4 linked regions of the Homo sapiens genome follow. The protein of the gene in region 2 purifies or fractionates together with the protein of the main gene of each other region. This does not show direct contact. Each region holds a gene or a part of one and is shown on either strand. Other genes may lie near its edges.

Region 1 (3,387 bases), on a different chromosome or scaffold from region 2:
TTTATATATGGGAAATATATTTAAATATGTTGTTTTATATAAATGAGATATAAAAGATAAAAGATATAAAAGATACCTCATTTATATAAAACAACGTATTTAAATCTATTTCACTTTACCTCATTACTTAGAGTTAATAAACTGACCTTTTCTTAATTTTTCCATTAACTTTATCTAAACATTAGAGTTTTTTTATGAATAAAACTCAACAATAATTATTTGGCAATTTTTAATTTATCCGTTTTATTTTCTAGCCTGAGCAATATTTTACCAAAGCTGCTTTTAGTAGCTAAGTCTGAGGCTATCTTTATTGGTTCCATTCTTTAAGTAATTATTCAATAGTATCAGTTTTCTTTCTTTGAGAAATTGTTACCAACATCTATACTATGGTTAAATTTTGGAACAAATGTAGTATATCCTAGCTGTTTTATAGTTTCTATATAAGTAAATGAGGTAGATGAGGATTTTTAACATTTTGTATGTGTTCTTTGGGAGTTCTCAATAAATAAAAAAGGTCATATTGAGTATATATATTATGAATTCCTACTATTCCAAGTGTGTTCATGATCAGCAGCAGCAGTGTCACCTAGGGGTTTGTTAGAAATGCAGAATTTCAAGCCCTGCTAAATCAGAATCTGCATTTTACCAAAATTCTAAGATGATTCAAATGCGCATTAAAGTTTGAGAAGCACTGGCGTGATGATGAAAGAATTTGCTATTCTTTGTAGAAAGATTTTAACTACTGATTTTATCTTGTTAATGATTTATTTTCTATTCTTGAATTTGCTTTGGTAATATATAATTATACATTTGTTCATGTTGGTTTTCAAATATATAGGTATTAGAGATGTTTATGGTATTCTCATGTACATAAAACCATGTAGTCTGCAGTTGATTCAATGACATAGCAGCTCTTTGCTGGTAATTTTGACCACGTGATTTCCTCTTATGCTCTAGCTATAGGCTTGAAGTCCCCACATAAGACTGTATAAATTCTATAAAACATCAGTTCCATTTAAAAGAAAATTCATATGGGGCCTCATTGATAATTTAAATTACTGTGATACCACTTAAACATGTATAAACATGATGAGGTGTGAATTCCTTAAGCTTAGAGCTCTTTTACAGCTACAAAACTAATATAAACTTACACATTAAATACATTAAATACAGACAAAACTTAAATACAGTTTCAAATTTACAACATTAAAGAGACCTATGATACCGTTTAGATGAAACTAAACCAGTGGTTTGGGATTTAATTAAGGAAAGATAGAATCTGAGGTTCAAATTTCATTATTTTGCATTTTGCTTTTTATTTTGACTTATATACTTCATATATTTTTTATATCCTCATGTAAAGAATGTGTGCATTAAGTAGATGTCTAATCCAATTATTGTAGTATCATAAACAGAGAAATAATATCTTAAATGAGCTCTGAAAAATCAGAAAAGTGTGGTATGGTTGAAATATATGTTTTATTAATACTGATAATATGCTTATTTTATTATGCAATTCCTAACCAATTTAAGAACCTTTTTACAGTGCAGCCAAACTTATTACACATTAGAAGTTTTATTTTATATCACTTTGGCAATCAGAGGTGTAGATACAAACCGAGGAACTTGAATCTCATGGTAAAAATGATCTAGAATATACTTATAATGATCTTTTAAAAATTATCATCAAAATGAAAATAAAATTAAGAAACCATGGTGGAAATTTCCCAGATGCCCTAAGCATGCATTTGCCAGCCTTGAGTGATCCACTTGGAGGAACAGTGACCCAGAGTGGGGTTTCTCAGTCCTGGCACTATTGACCTTTTCACTGTTAATTCCTAGTTGGGCAGGGTTGAGGGTTGCTGTGCACTGGAGGATGTTTAGAAAGCATCCCTGGCCTCTGCCCATTAGATGGCAGTAGTGCTTTCAGTTGTGAAAATAAAAATGCCTCCAGTCATTGCCAAATGTCCCCCTGAGGGACAAATATCACTGACCTCCCCACCTTGGTTGAGAACCACTGATCTAGAGCAACTACAGCTATTATCTATTAATGTTTTTTTTTTTTTGAAAATCTGAAGTACAGATCTATAAATACGTATTCACAATCTGAAATCCAGAAAGTGCTTAAATTTAAAACATTTTTCATAATTTTGTAGCAAGCTCACTGGGTAAAACTTCGCCTAAGCTAACAAAAGATATTTAAACTCTATATGTCTCAATATCAGTGTCCATGTGTGTTGCTACAGAAACATTTATGTGTTTAATTATAAAATTCTGCCTCAGAACTCTCTGGGGGTGTTAAATAATACATTTTCAAAATCTGAATTCCAAGACACATTCCAAAACAGTAGTTTACGGTAGGGGATTATGACCCTGTATTTGAAAAGCAAGTTGACTGTCAACAATGCTATACTGATTTAATTTTTCCTGATTTTGACCTTTGGCTATTTTTATCCTTCTCATATTCCTCTCATATATTTTTCACAATAAAATAGGAGACATGATAGGAGATATGTTTTTTGCCCAAAAGAAAATAATACACTTAATGCCAGTACCTGGTAGTTTTTATTATGTGGTTGATGGCCAGTACTTTCCATTGCTATAAACATTTTGCATCCAGTTGTAAATTTTTTCTCATTGACATTGCTTTTTAACTTTAGTCACTGAAGACTGTCCTCTTAACAGCTTAAAGTACATGGACTAGTTTAATTTGTGACTCTGTTACTCATTAAACCTAAATCATTTTCTTTGTATTAGGTTGGCATCACTCTCTTCACTGTGTCTCATAGGAAATCTCTTTGGAAACATCATGAGGTTTGTATTTCTTTCATTGAATGGTACAGTGAAATTTTATTTTCTTTAAAATATGAATTCAGGTTAATATGGTTTTAGATTTTATGGTTTGTATTCCCTTAAACATATGTCTTAAGGAGAAAAGGTGGTTTTGTTTTATAAAATAGGATTTTCTTAAATATTATAGTTGTCAGTTTTGAAAGCAATGGTGTAACAGTTTTTCTCCAGTTTTATAAGTGACTCTTATCTGTTAATAGTAACTGACTAAACTTTGCATAGTCTTATCACAAATATGGTGAAGTAAACTTTTCTTATCCAGCAGTGACAGAGGAGAAAAAGTCTTAAGAAGAATTAGATGGCAAAAAATTTAGGGACATTTTTAATAGAGGTCAGGACTACAAGGGGGAAGATTGAATAACATAAGCTATGTTTATCAATGTACTGTAGTAAGTAGGATTCATTAGATAGTCACTATAATTTACAAAGATATTCAAATGAGGCTTACATTGGTGCACGTGTATTACTTATTCTGGTGCTTCAGTAGTGCCATTCTCACTATGTCAGTTCTTTTCAACTCAATGTGAAATGCTCAAA
Region 2 (3,500 bases):
TGCAAAGAAAGAACGAGAGGTACAAATGGCCAGGCACAGTGGCTCATGCCTAGAATCTCAGGACTTTGGGAGGCCGAGGTGGGAGGATTACTAGAGCCCAGGAGTTCAAGACCAGCCTGGGTAACATGGTGAAAACCCATCTCTACTAAAAATACAAAAATTAGCTGGGCATGGTGGCATGTGACTGTAGTCCCAGCTACTTGGGAGGCTGAGGCAGGAGAATCGCTTGAACGTGGAAGGTGGAGGTTGCCTTGAGCCGAGATTGCGCCACTGCATTCCAGCCTGGGTGACAGGGTGAGCCACTGTCTCAAATGAGAGACAGAGAGAGAGAGATACAAGCAAGAGATGGAAAGAGAATGAAGGAACTCAAAGCCCATACATACATTCATTCATTCACTCATTATTTACTGAGCCCCTGCTGTGTGCCAAGCCCTGTTCTAGGCATCTAGGGATACAGTATTGAACAAAATGGATAAATTCTTTGCCCTCGTGGGACTGACATCCTCGCTGGGGAGAGAAATGCTGAGAGAGGCCAGGTGCAGGGCCTCATGCCTATAATCCCAGCATGTTGGGAGGCTGAGGCAGGAGGATCACTTGAGCCCAGGAGCCATCCTGGGCAACATAGTGAGACCCATCTCTATCTCTACAAAAAGTTAAAAAATTAGCTGGGTATGGAGGTGCATGCCTGTGGTCCCAGCTACTCAGGAGGCTGAGGCGGGAGGATCTTGTGAGCCCTGGAGTTCGCGGCTACAGTGAGCTACGATGGTGCCACTGTACTCCAGCCTGGGTGATAGAGCAAGACCCTGTCTCTAAAAAGGAAAAAAGGGCTGGGCGCCGTGGCTCACGCCTGTAATCCCAACACTTTGGGAGGCTGAGGCGGGCAGATCATCTGAGTCAGGAGTTTGAGACCAGCCTGGCTAACATGGTGAAACCCCGCCTGTCTCTACCAAAAATGCAAAAGATTAGCGCTTGTAATCCCAGCTACTCAGGAGGCTGAGGCAGGAGAATCACTTGAATCCAGTAGGTGGAGGTTGCAGTGAGCCAAGATCACACCACTGCTCTCCAGCCTGGCCAACAGAGCGAGACTCCGTCACAAAAAAATAAATAATTAAAAAATAAAATTAAAATAAAAAATTAAGAGATATAGTGTGTGAAATGGCATTAAGAGCAATGGTGGACCTGGGTGCGGTGGCTCACGCCTGTCCTAGCACTTTGGGAGGCCGAGGCGAGTGGATCACCTGCGGTCAGGAGTTCGAGACCAGCCTGGCCATCATCGTGAAACCCCGTCTCTACTAAAAATATAAAAATTAGCTGCGCATGGTGGTGTGCACCTGTAATCCCAGCTACTTGGGAGGCTGAAGCAGGAGAATCACTGGAACCTGGGAGGAGGAGGTTGCAGTGAGCCAAGATTGCACCATTGCACTCCAGCCTGGGTGACAAGAGCAAAACTCTGTCTCAAAAACCTCCGACTCAAAAAAAAAAAAAAAAAAAAAAAAAAGAAAAGAAAAGAAAAAGAAAAACAGGGGCCTGGCGGGGGATAGAAAGGATGGGGACTGATGGCTGATGCTTTCACAGAATGATTAGGGAAGGTCTCACTGAGAAGGTGATCATTTTTTTTTGTCCTGCCTTTCACCTTTTGATAGAAAGGTGACATTTGAGTAAAGACCTGAAGGAGGTGAGGCAGGGAGCCCTGTGCTCATGCAGGGAAGAGCATTCCAGGCAGAGGGAACAGCGAGTGCAAAAGCCCTGAGCTGGGAATGTCTGACTTGTTCAAGGAATAGTGAGGAGACCCTTGTGGCTGGAGGAGGGTGAGTGATGGGGAGAGTGGGAGATGTGGCAGAGAGGTGACAGAGCAGACATTGGAGACCTGTGGGCCACGGTGAGGACTTTGGCTTTTGTCACAGGATGTGGCTATGAGCAGGGGAGGACCCAATCTATCCCGGGCGGCCACAGGATCCCTCTGGATGCTTGTGACAGACAGACTAGGGGGCAGAGGAGAGGAGCAGGGAGACCAGCGAGGAGACCCCCGCGTTGGTCTAGGTTGGAAAGGATGCAGGATAGGACCAGGGTCGGGGCTGTGGATGGCATGCAGAGGGAGCAGATTCTAGATCTGTTGGCTGATGGACAAGGTGTGGGGTGCAAGAGGAAGAATAGGGTCCTAACCCTCCTTTGCATAGTTCTAGTGGAGAGAAACAGAGACAGAGTCAGTCACTCGAACCAGACACAAAGGCTGGAAGAGACAGAGATAGGGACTTAACAACTACGGCCACAGCTGGGTGCGGTGGCTCATGCCTGTAATTCCAGCACTTAGGGAGGCTGAGGAGGGCAGATCATCTGAGGTCAGAAGTTTAAGACCAGCCTGGCCAACAGGGTGAAACCCCGTCTCTACTAAAAATACAAAAATTAGCAGGGCATGGTGGTGTGCACCTGTAGACCCAGCTATTCAGGAGACTGAGGCTGGAGAATCACTTGAACCCAGGAGGCAGAGGTTGCAATGAGCCAAGATTGCGCCACTGCACTTTAGCCTGGGCGACAGAGTGAGACTCGGTCTCAAAAAAAAAAAAAAAAACCAACAAAGGCTGGGTGCGGTGGCTCACGCCTGTAATCCCAGCACTTTGGGAGGCCGAGGCGGGTGGGTCACATGAGGTCAGGAGTTCGAGACCAGCCTGGCCAACATAGTGAAACCCCATCTCTACTAAAAATACAAAAAATTAGCCGGGTGTGGTGGTGGGCGCCTGCAATCCCAGCTACTCAGGAGGCTAAGGCAGGAGAATCGCTTGAACCGGGGAGGTGGAGGTTGCAGTGTGCTGAGATCGTGCCATTGCACTCCAGACTGGGCAACAAGAGTGAGACTCTGTCTCAAACAAACAAACAAACAAACAAACAAAAACCAACAAAGCAACTAAAGAATCACAGACCCAGAGATGGCCAGAGTCAAATAGCAGATGCAGGAAGATGCCAGGTGAAAGATGCCGGGGTGGCCCAGCTCGGCTGTCCCTGCTGCTTGACCTGCCCACTCGCCCTCTTCCCCACCCCCGACAGGTGATTGACTTCGGATCCGCCAGCATTTTCAGCGAGGTGCGCTACGTGAAGGAGCCATACATCCAGTCGCGCTTCTACCGGGCCCCTGAGATCCTGCTGGGGCTGCCCTTCTGCGAGAAGGTGGACGTGTGGTCCCTGGGCTGCGTCATGGCTGAGCTGCACCTGGGCTGGCCTCTCTACCCCGGCAACAACGAGTACGACCAGGTGCGCTACATCTGCGAAACCCAGGGCCTGCCCAAGCCACACCTGTTGCACGCCGCCTGCAAGGCCCACCACTTCTTCAAGCGCAACCCCCACCCTGACGCTGCCAACCCCTGGCAGCTCAAGTCCTCGGCTGACTACCTGGCCGAGACGAAGGTAAGGGAAAAGTTGGGTGAGGGCAGTCAGTGTGGGGGCTGTTACATGAAAAAAAATTCTAGGGTGGGCAACGTGGCTCACACCTGTAATTCCAGCACTTT
Region 3 (3,500 bases), on a different chromosome or scaffold from region 2:
CTACCTCCTGTGGTTTTTGATTCAAGTCCTGTTCTACCTACTGCCAATTGGAAAGGTACGTTTATGGTAATTCTGTTTTGTTTTAATAAGATGAGGTCTCACTATATTGTCCAGGCGGGTCTCCAATTTCTGGGATCAAGTGATCCTCTTGCCGCAGCCTCCTGAGTCGCTGGGACCACAGGCCTGTGCCATGCTGCCCAGCCTTAGAGTAGTTTAAAGGTTAAAGGCTGTTGTTGGTCATAATTCCCAAAACTTAGTTCATGAAGCCATTTCTCTTGTGCTGTCTGTATAACACTTGCTTATTAGGAGGAACTTAAAAAAAAATCTGATTGAGATTTCTTGTGTAACTTTTCAAACCAAATAGAAAAGAATAGGCTATTTTGCAAAGTAGCCGACTCTCAGTGGAGGTTGCTATGGAAAAAAAATTCACTCTTAGTATGTGTCATTTCAGATGCAGCATTTTAAATGATTAATTGATAGGCTACTGGGCTCGATGGACTTTAGTCTACATCTTTTACTTTAAAAAAGTATGAAAAGTTTCTAATTTTCATCTCTTTCAGAAGCTTGTTGTCAAGAACATTTTACGTTGTTTTCAGATTCCTGCAATATCTTTAAAATTTGTCTCTCCATTGCTAAGTGTAGTTTTTTCTTCTTTCAGTAGAATCCTTTACTTGGATATATTTAAAGAAACATGAGATTCCCTAAGTAATAAATAATTTATTTAAAGATCTTATTCTTAGGGCTTTGCAAGTTTGCCAACTGTCTGTAAACCAAAGGATCGGTTTTACTGGTGAATGCCAGTGATAGGAGGGTAGAGCTGCAGGCTTAATACTGTGGAGTGAGACCATAACTTTAGTGGCTCTAGCAAGGATTTTTGTGATAAAGACCTTCAGTCATTTCTACAGTAAGCCTCTACAGTTAAATTCAGATTCATTTAGGGTAAGGTGATTTCAGAGTATCAAGGAAAGCAGTTTTGGTGTTTAAAGTCATATATGTATATACTCATAGACTAAAGTGACTAAAAGCATATATATTAAAATATATATTAATATTATGCAGTCATCCCTTGATATCCTTGGGGAGTGGTTCCAGGACCTCCTGTACATACCAAAATCTGAGGATGCTGAAGGCCCTGATAAGAAATAGTATAGTATTTGCATATAACCTGTGTGCATCTTCCTTGTATACTTTGTTGCCTTTAGGTTGCTTATAATACCTAATACAACGTAAGTGCCATGTAAATAGTTATCATACTGTATTAGGGAATAAGGACAAGAAAAAGAAGTCTGTACATATTCAGCTCAGATGCAATTTTTTCCGAAATATTTTGGATCTGGTTGGTTGAATCCATGGATGTGGATCCCGTCGATACGGAGGGCTGACTGTATATTTGGATCTATATATTCACAGATTAAAGCCTAACACAGCATTTACTAGACTCCTTTAATAGATAAGGATCATCTGAAATTAGCATGTGGCATTTTACTAATCCTGTGATCTCAAACAGCTTTTACGTTTCTCTTGGGAGAGGAGGAATGCTAGCTAATGAAATCTGTAGCTAATGATAAGATAAAGTAGTTTAGCCCAGAGCAAATGATACTATATTTATATTTTACAGTTTGAAATGAATTGCTACATTTCTGAATAGTTATTTTGTGGGGTAAAACGTGGCTGCATTGAGCAAGTGGACTTTTTACTGAGCCAGTTCTATTGGGTACCATGCCTGTGGGTATCTCTGTGCTGAATGCTGTGAGTGATGCCGAATGAAGAGAGGAGATGGTTCTGATGCATGATGCGTGCTCACAGTCTCTCTCTCTCTCTCTCTTTTTTTTTTTTTTTCTTGAGACAGGGTCTTGCTCTGTTGCCCAGGCTGGAGTGCAGTGGTGCAATCTGCAACCTCCTCCTGGGCTGAAGTCATCTTCCCACTTCAGCCTCCCGAGTAGCTGGGACCACAGGCGCGTGCCACCAGGCTTGGCTAGTTTTTGTATTTTGTATTTTTGTAGAGAGGGGATTTCACCATGTTGCCCAGGCTGGTCTCCAACTCCTGGACTCAAGTGATCCTCCCACCTTGACCTCTCAAAGTGCTGGGATTACAGGCATGAGTCACCACACCTGGTTTCTCACAGTCTCTTATTGCAGATAAAAGAATCACATGAAATGGTTAAATAACTGGATGGGCAATATATATATAATATATAGCAGAGCAAGTAAGCATATGAGTATGCGTCATCAAATAGCACTTGGGTCATAGTAGAGTGGATAAACAGGGTAGAGCCCAATTGAAAAGGACCCCACAAATGGAAGACAATGGAATCATACTGTTACTTTGTAAGAGTATGGTAGCCATTGGTAGATGTTTGAGCTAGGGATCCACTAGATATAAAGGTATTTAAGCACATTTAGTCTTGAGGTGGTGGTACACAGGAGTGTGGCAGGGAGCGTGGCTGTTGCAGTTGCTTGGTCCTACACTAGGAAGTCATTACTGAATTTGTATTTAAGATAAATTCCTGAAGGTGGAATTGCGTCATTAAAGGGCTTGCCACTAGGGTTTTTGAAACATATTACTAAATTTCCATGTTACAAGATATCTTCCTTCTTGGGCGTGTTGAAAATTAAGTGATACTAGAATATATATATGTGTGTGTGTATATATGTATATATGATGGTGATGTGCTTAGTAAATTTGTAAATTTTTTTTCTTTTAAGGTTGTAGAAGGAACGCCTCTTATTGATGGAAGAAGACTCAAGTATAGATTAAATGGTGATTTTCTTTTTTTAAGACTCAAATTGATGATTTGATAGCTTAAACTTCTAAGTGTTAAACTCTTTGTTAAAGCTGATTAGACCAGAGTAGTAAGTGATAAATTATTTCTTAGTAGTTGGAAGAGCAACTGTTTATACCTGTAGCCAACTTGTATAAATTATGCCATTAAAGTAACATAGCCTCTTAGTCACTCTTGTCCACTCTCCAGTTTTATTTTCTTAATAGTGCTCATCACTGTTAGAAATCATTGCACTTGTCTAGGATTTTATCACCTGAGGTGTTACACGGATGTGGGCATCCAGGCCACTCCTGCTGCGTGAGCTGCTCTTGTCCTTGCTCATGTCCTCTGGGTTGTCCCTTGAATATTCGTCACACACACTTCCTGGGCCTTTGCCTGGAGAACTTACCCCCAAACGTCTGACACCTGCATCTTCACCTCCATCTGTCTTCTGCTGAGAGAAGCCTTCAGGTCCCTTTCTCTCCCCTGCTCTGTTTTGTTTTTCTGTCTGACATTTGTGCCTCCACACATCAGTGTATTTGTCTCTTCATTAGGGTCTCTCCACTAGAATGTGGCTTCATGGGCTAGGACTTGGCTATGTTCATTGTGACACTCTTGGTGCTAGGAAGATGGGCATGTAGTGGGTGCTCATTCATATGTGAGTGCTGGATGGATGAGTTGTGAGCTTGCTGGGCAGCTCAATAAATGGATAGACCTTGCTCCCTGTGGGTCCGGCAT
Region 4 (3,500 bases), about 21 Mb from region 2:
TTTGAGACGGAGTTTCACTCTTGTCTCCCAGGCTGGAGGGCAATGGAGGGATCTTGGCTCACTGCAACCTCCGCCTCTTGGCTCACTGCAACCTCCGCCTCCTGGGTTCAAGCGATTCTCCTGCCTCAGCCTCCTGAGTAGCTGGGATTACGGGCATGCACCACCACGCCCAGCTAATTTTTCTATTTGTAGTAGAGATGAGGTTTTACCATGTTGGCCAGGCTGGTCTCGAACTCCCGACCTCAGGTGATCCACTTGCCTTGGCCTCCCAAGATGCTGGGATTACAGGCATGAGCCACCGAGCCCAGCCCAGTTTTGTTTTTTGGTGTTTTTTATGTTTTTGTTTTTTTTGTTTTTTGTTTTTTTTAATAGATATGGAGTCTTGCTATGTTTTCAGGCTGGTCTGCAACTCCTGGGCTCAAGTGATCCTCCCACCTCTGCCTTCAGCATGTTGCGATTACAGGCGTGAGCCACTGCTCCCAGCCCCAAGACAGGTTCTTGGATCCATTTCCTGGCTCCATCCCTGTCACCGCTGCCCAGGTTTAAGCTCTACTAGTTCTTTTTTTTTTTTATTTGAGACAGAGTCTTGTACTGTCGCCCAGGCTGGAGTGCAGTGACGTGATTTTGGCTCACTGCGGCCTGTGCCTCCTGGATTCAAGCGATTCTCCTGCCTCAGCCTCCCGAGTAGCTGAGATTACAGGTGCCTGCCACCATGCCCGGCTAATTTTTTTGTATTTATTTTAGTAAAGATGGGGTTTCACTATGTTGGTCAGGCTGGTTTTGAACTCCTGACCTTGTGATCTGCCCGCCTCGGCCTCCCAGAGTGCTGGGAGGATCACAAGGTCAGGAGATCGAGACCATCCTGTGAATGGTGAAACCCCGTCTTTACTAAAAATCAAAAAAAAAAAAAAATTAGCCAGGTGTGGTTGTGGGTGCCTGTGGTCCCAGCTACTTGGGAGGCTGAGGCGGGATAATGCCGTGAACCCGGGAGGTGGAGCCTGCAGTGAGCCAAGATTGCGCTACTGCACTCCAGCCTGGGCGACAGAGCGAGACTCCATCTCAAAAAAAAAAAAAGAAAAAAAATGGCCGGGCGCAGTGGCTCAAGCCTGTAATCCTAGCACTTTGGGAGGCCGAGGCGGGCGGATCACAAGGTCAGGAGATCGAGACCATCCTGGCTAACACGGTGAAACCCTGTCTCTACTAAAAATATTAGCCGGGCGTGGTGGCGGGCGCCTGTAGTCCCAGCTACTCAGGAGGCTGAGGCAGGAGAATGGCGTGAACCCAGGAGGCGGAGGTTGCAGCGAGCCAAGGTTGTGCCACTGCACTCCAGCCTGGGTGACAGAGCAAGACTCCGTCTCAAAAAAAAAAAAATTTATCTGGGCATGGTGGCATGCGCCTATGGCCCTGGCTACTTGGGAGGCTGAGGCAGGAAGTTCGCTTGTGCCCAGGAAGTCGAGGCTGCAGTAAGCTGTGTTTGTGCCATTATACTCCAGCCTGGGCCAAAGAGTGAGACCCTGTCTCAAAAAAAGACGGCCAGGTGCAGTGGCTTACACATGTAATCTCAGCACTTTGGGAGGCCAAGGTGGGCAGATCACCTGAGGTCAGGAGTTTGAGACCAGTCTGGCCAACATGGTGAAACCCCGTGTCTACTAAAAATACAAAAATGTGGCAGGCCCCTATAATCCCAGCTACCCAGGAGGCTGAGACAGAAGAATAGCTTGAACCCAGGAGGTGGAGGTTGCAGTGAGCCGAGATCGCACCACTGCGCTCCAGCGTGGGTGACAGAACGAGACTCCGTCTCAAAAAAAAAAGACAGATTAGGGGGCCGTGGGTGGGAGAGGACTAGAAACCTAGCAGTATGCTAGGTGATTCTGGAACATTTCTGTGTTGCAAAGCAGTCTATCGTTTAGCCTTTCTCTGTTTCTCTGCTCCACTCTGAACTTTTCATCTCCTCATAAAGGGTATGAGAAAATTCTCTTGAGTAGAATCCAGCCATCACTCTCTGTCACTAATGTTCCCTCCCTAATCATGCCATCAATACCAATCATCAATACCTGGGTTATCACAGTGGATTTCTTGCAGGAACATCCACGTCTGTGCTCATCTCCTTTAATCTGTTCCCTGTGCAGCAGCCAGTGAGATCATCCCTCTGCTTAGAACTCTTCACTAGCCTTCTGTCTCTCCCAGAGTAAATTCCAGAGTACCACTGAGGGCCCGACTTGGATCTGGTACTCCTTCTCCATTTGTGTCTCTTATATTAGTGGTTCCCTAACTTTGTAGCACGTTAGCGTCACCTGGGGGCCTTTTAAAAACCCTGATGCCCAGGTCATCCCCTTATTTAATTAAGTAAGAATGTCTGGGGAGGTGGTCCCTGGGGCTCCAGTAGCAGAGTTTGGGAGCTGCCTTCCTACCACTTGGCCTTTCATTCCCTGTGTTCCCTTCTGTCTACATTGGCCCCCTACTGGTCCCACCTCAGGGTCTTGTCCTCATTCCCCCTCTGCCTGGAAGGCTTCCCTTTGTAACTGTACGGTCTGGCTCCTCATGCCAGGCCACTGCTGCTAGATAAAGTGTCAGAGCTATGCAGCGTGACACGGTGGCTCACGCCTGTAATCCCAGCACTTTGGGAGGCCGAGGTGGGCGGATCACAAGGTCAGGAGTTCCAGACCAGCCTGGCCAATGTGGTGAAACCCTGTCTCTACTAAAAATACAAAAGTTAGCCGGGCATGGTGGCGGGTGCCTGTATTCCCAGCTACTCAGGAGGCGGAGGCAGGAGAATCGCTTGAACCTGGGAGGTGGAGGTTGCGGTGAGCCAAGATCGCACCCTTGCACTCCGGCACTCCAGCCTGGGCAACAGAGCGAGACTCTGTCTCAAAAAAAAAAAGAAAAAAAAAAGTGTCAGAGCTACCCTCCTTGACTAGCCTGTCTCAAAATGTCATTGCCTCCTCAGGTTCCCACGTGCTTGATTTGTCTTCTTGGTACTTAACTTGCATCTGATATATTTTTGTTTATTGTCTGGCTCTCTCAACTGACAAGTTTGGAAGAGTTCTCATTTTCTTGCTGTAACTTCAGTGCCTAGTACAGTGCTTGCGCACAGTAGGTGCCCAGTTTGTACTTGTTGAACAAGTGAACTAGGATTTATATACGACTTTGGCTTCCTGTGGCCTCTTAACCTATTGCTACCTCCTGGCACCTCTCCTTCCCTGTTCATTTGATTTTTTTTTTAACTAGGTCATCGATTCTGATTGAAAAGCTAGAAAGAAAGGCATTCCATGAAAACTCTCCCTGAGGCCCACTGTTCTCATATGCCCGTAGTTCACTTCTCTTCCTCGCTTCTTACAGTTTCTCCATGTGTGATTAAGCAAATGCAAGTACATCTTCCCCTCCGCCCTTTTTTATTTTTGACAGAGATAGGGTCTCGCTATGTTGCCCAGGCTGGTCTCAAACTCCTGGGCTCAAGTGATCCTCCCACCTCGGCCTCCCAAAGTGCAGGGATTATAGGT

Evidence for each region.
Region 1: the proteins of HIPK4 (region 2) and ABCD3 purify together in Homo sapiens (affinity purification with mass spectrometry, with the first as the bait; one large-scale study listed by BioGRID). This does not show direct contact.
Region 3: the proteins of HIPK4 (region 2) and LBR purify together in Homo sapiens (affinity purification with mass spectrometry; one large-scale study listed by BioGRID and IntAct). This does not show direct contact.
Region 4: the proteins of HIPK4 (region 2) and SUGP2 purify together in Homo sapiens (affinity purification with mass spectrometry, with the first as the bait; one large-scale study listed by BioGRID). This does not show direct contact.

The regions. Positions count from the first base shown.
Region 1 is NC_000001.11:94,512,389-94,515,775, forward strand, and holds part of ABCD3 (ATP-binding cassette sub-family D member 3), read left to right. Parts: intron 1-2,757; coding exon 2,758-2,814; intron 2,815-3,387. UniProt on the Homo sapiens protein: Broad substrate specificity ATP-dependent transporter of the ATP-binding cassette (ABC) family that catalyzes the transport of long-chain fatty acids (LCFA)-CoA, dicarboxylic acids-CoA, long-branched-chain fatty acids-CoA and bile acids from the cytosol to the peroxisome lumen for beta-oxydation.
Region 2 is NC_000019.10:40,383,682-40,387,181, reverse strand, and holds part of HIPK4 (homeodomain-interacting protein kinase 4), read left to right. Parts: intron 1-3,042; coding exon 3,043-3,399; intron 3,400-3,500. UniProt on the Homo sapiens protein: Protein kinase that phosphorylates human TP53 at Ser-9, and thus induces TP53 repression of BIRC5 promoter. May act as a corepressor of transcription factors.
Region 3 is NC_000001.11:225,414,539-225,418,038, reverse strand, and holds part of LBR (delta(14)-sterol reductase LBR), read left to right. Parts: coding exon 1-55; intron 56-2,706; coding exon 2,707-2,761; intron 2,762-3,500. UniProt on the Homo sapiens protein: Catalyzes the reduction of the C14-unsaturated bond of lanosterol, as part of the metabolic pathway leading to cholesterol biosynthesis.
Region 4 is NC_000019.10:19,027,018-19,030,517, reverse strand, and holds part of SUGP2 (SURP and G-patch domain-containing protein 2), read left to right. Parts: intron 1-3,500. UniProt on the Homo sapiens protein: May play a role in mRNA splicing.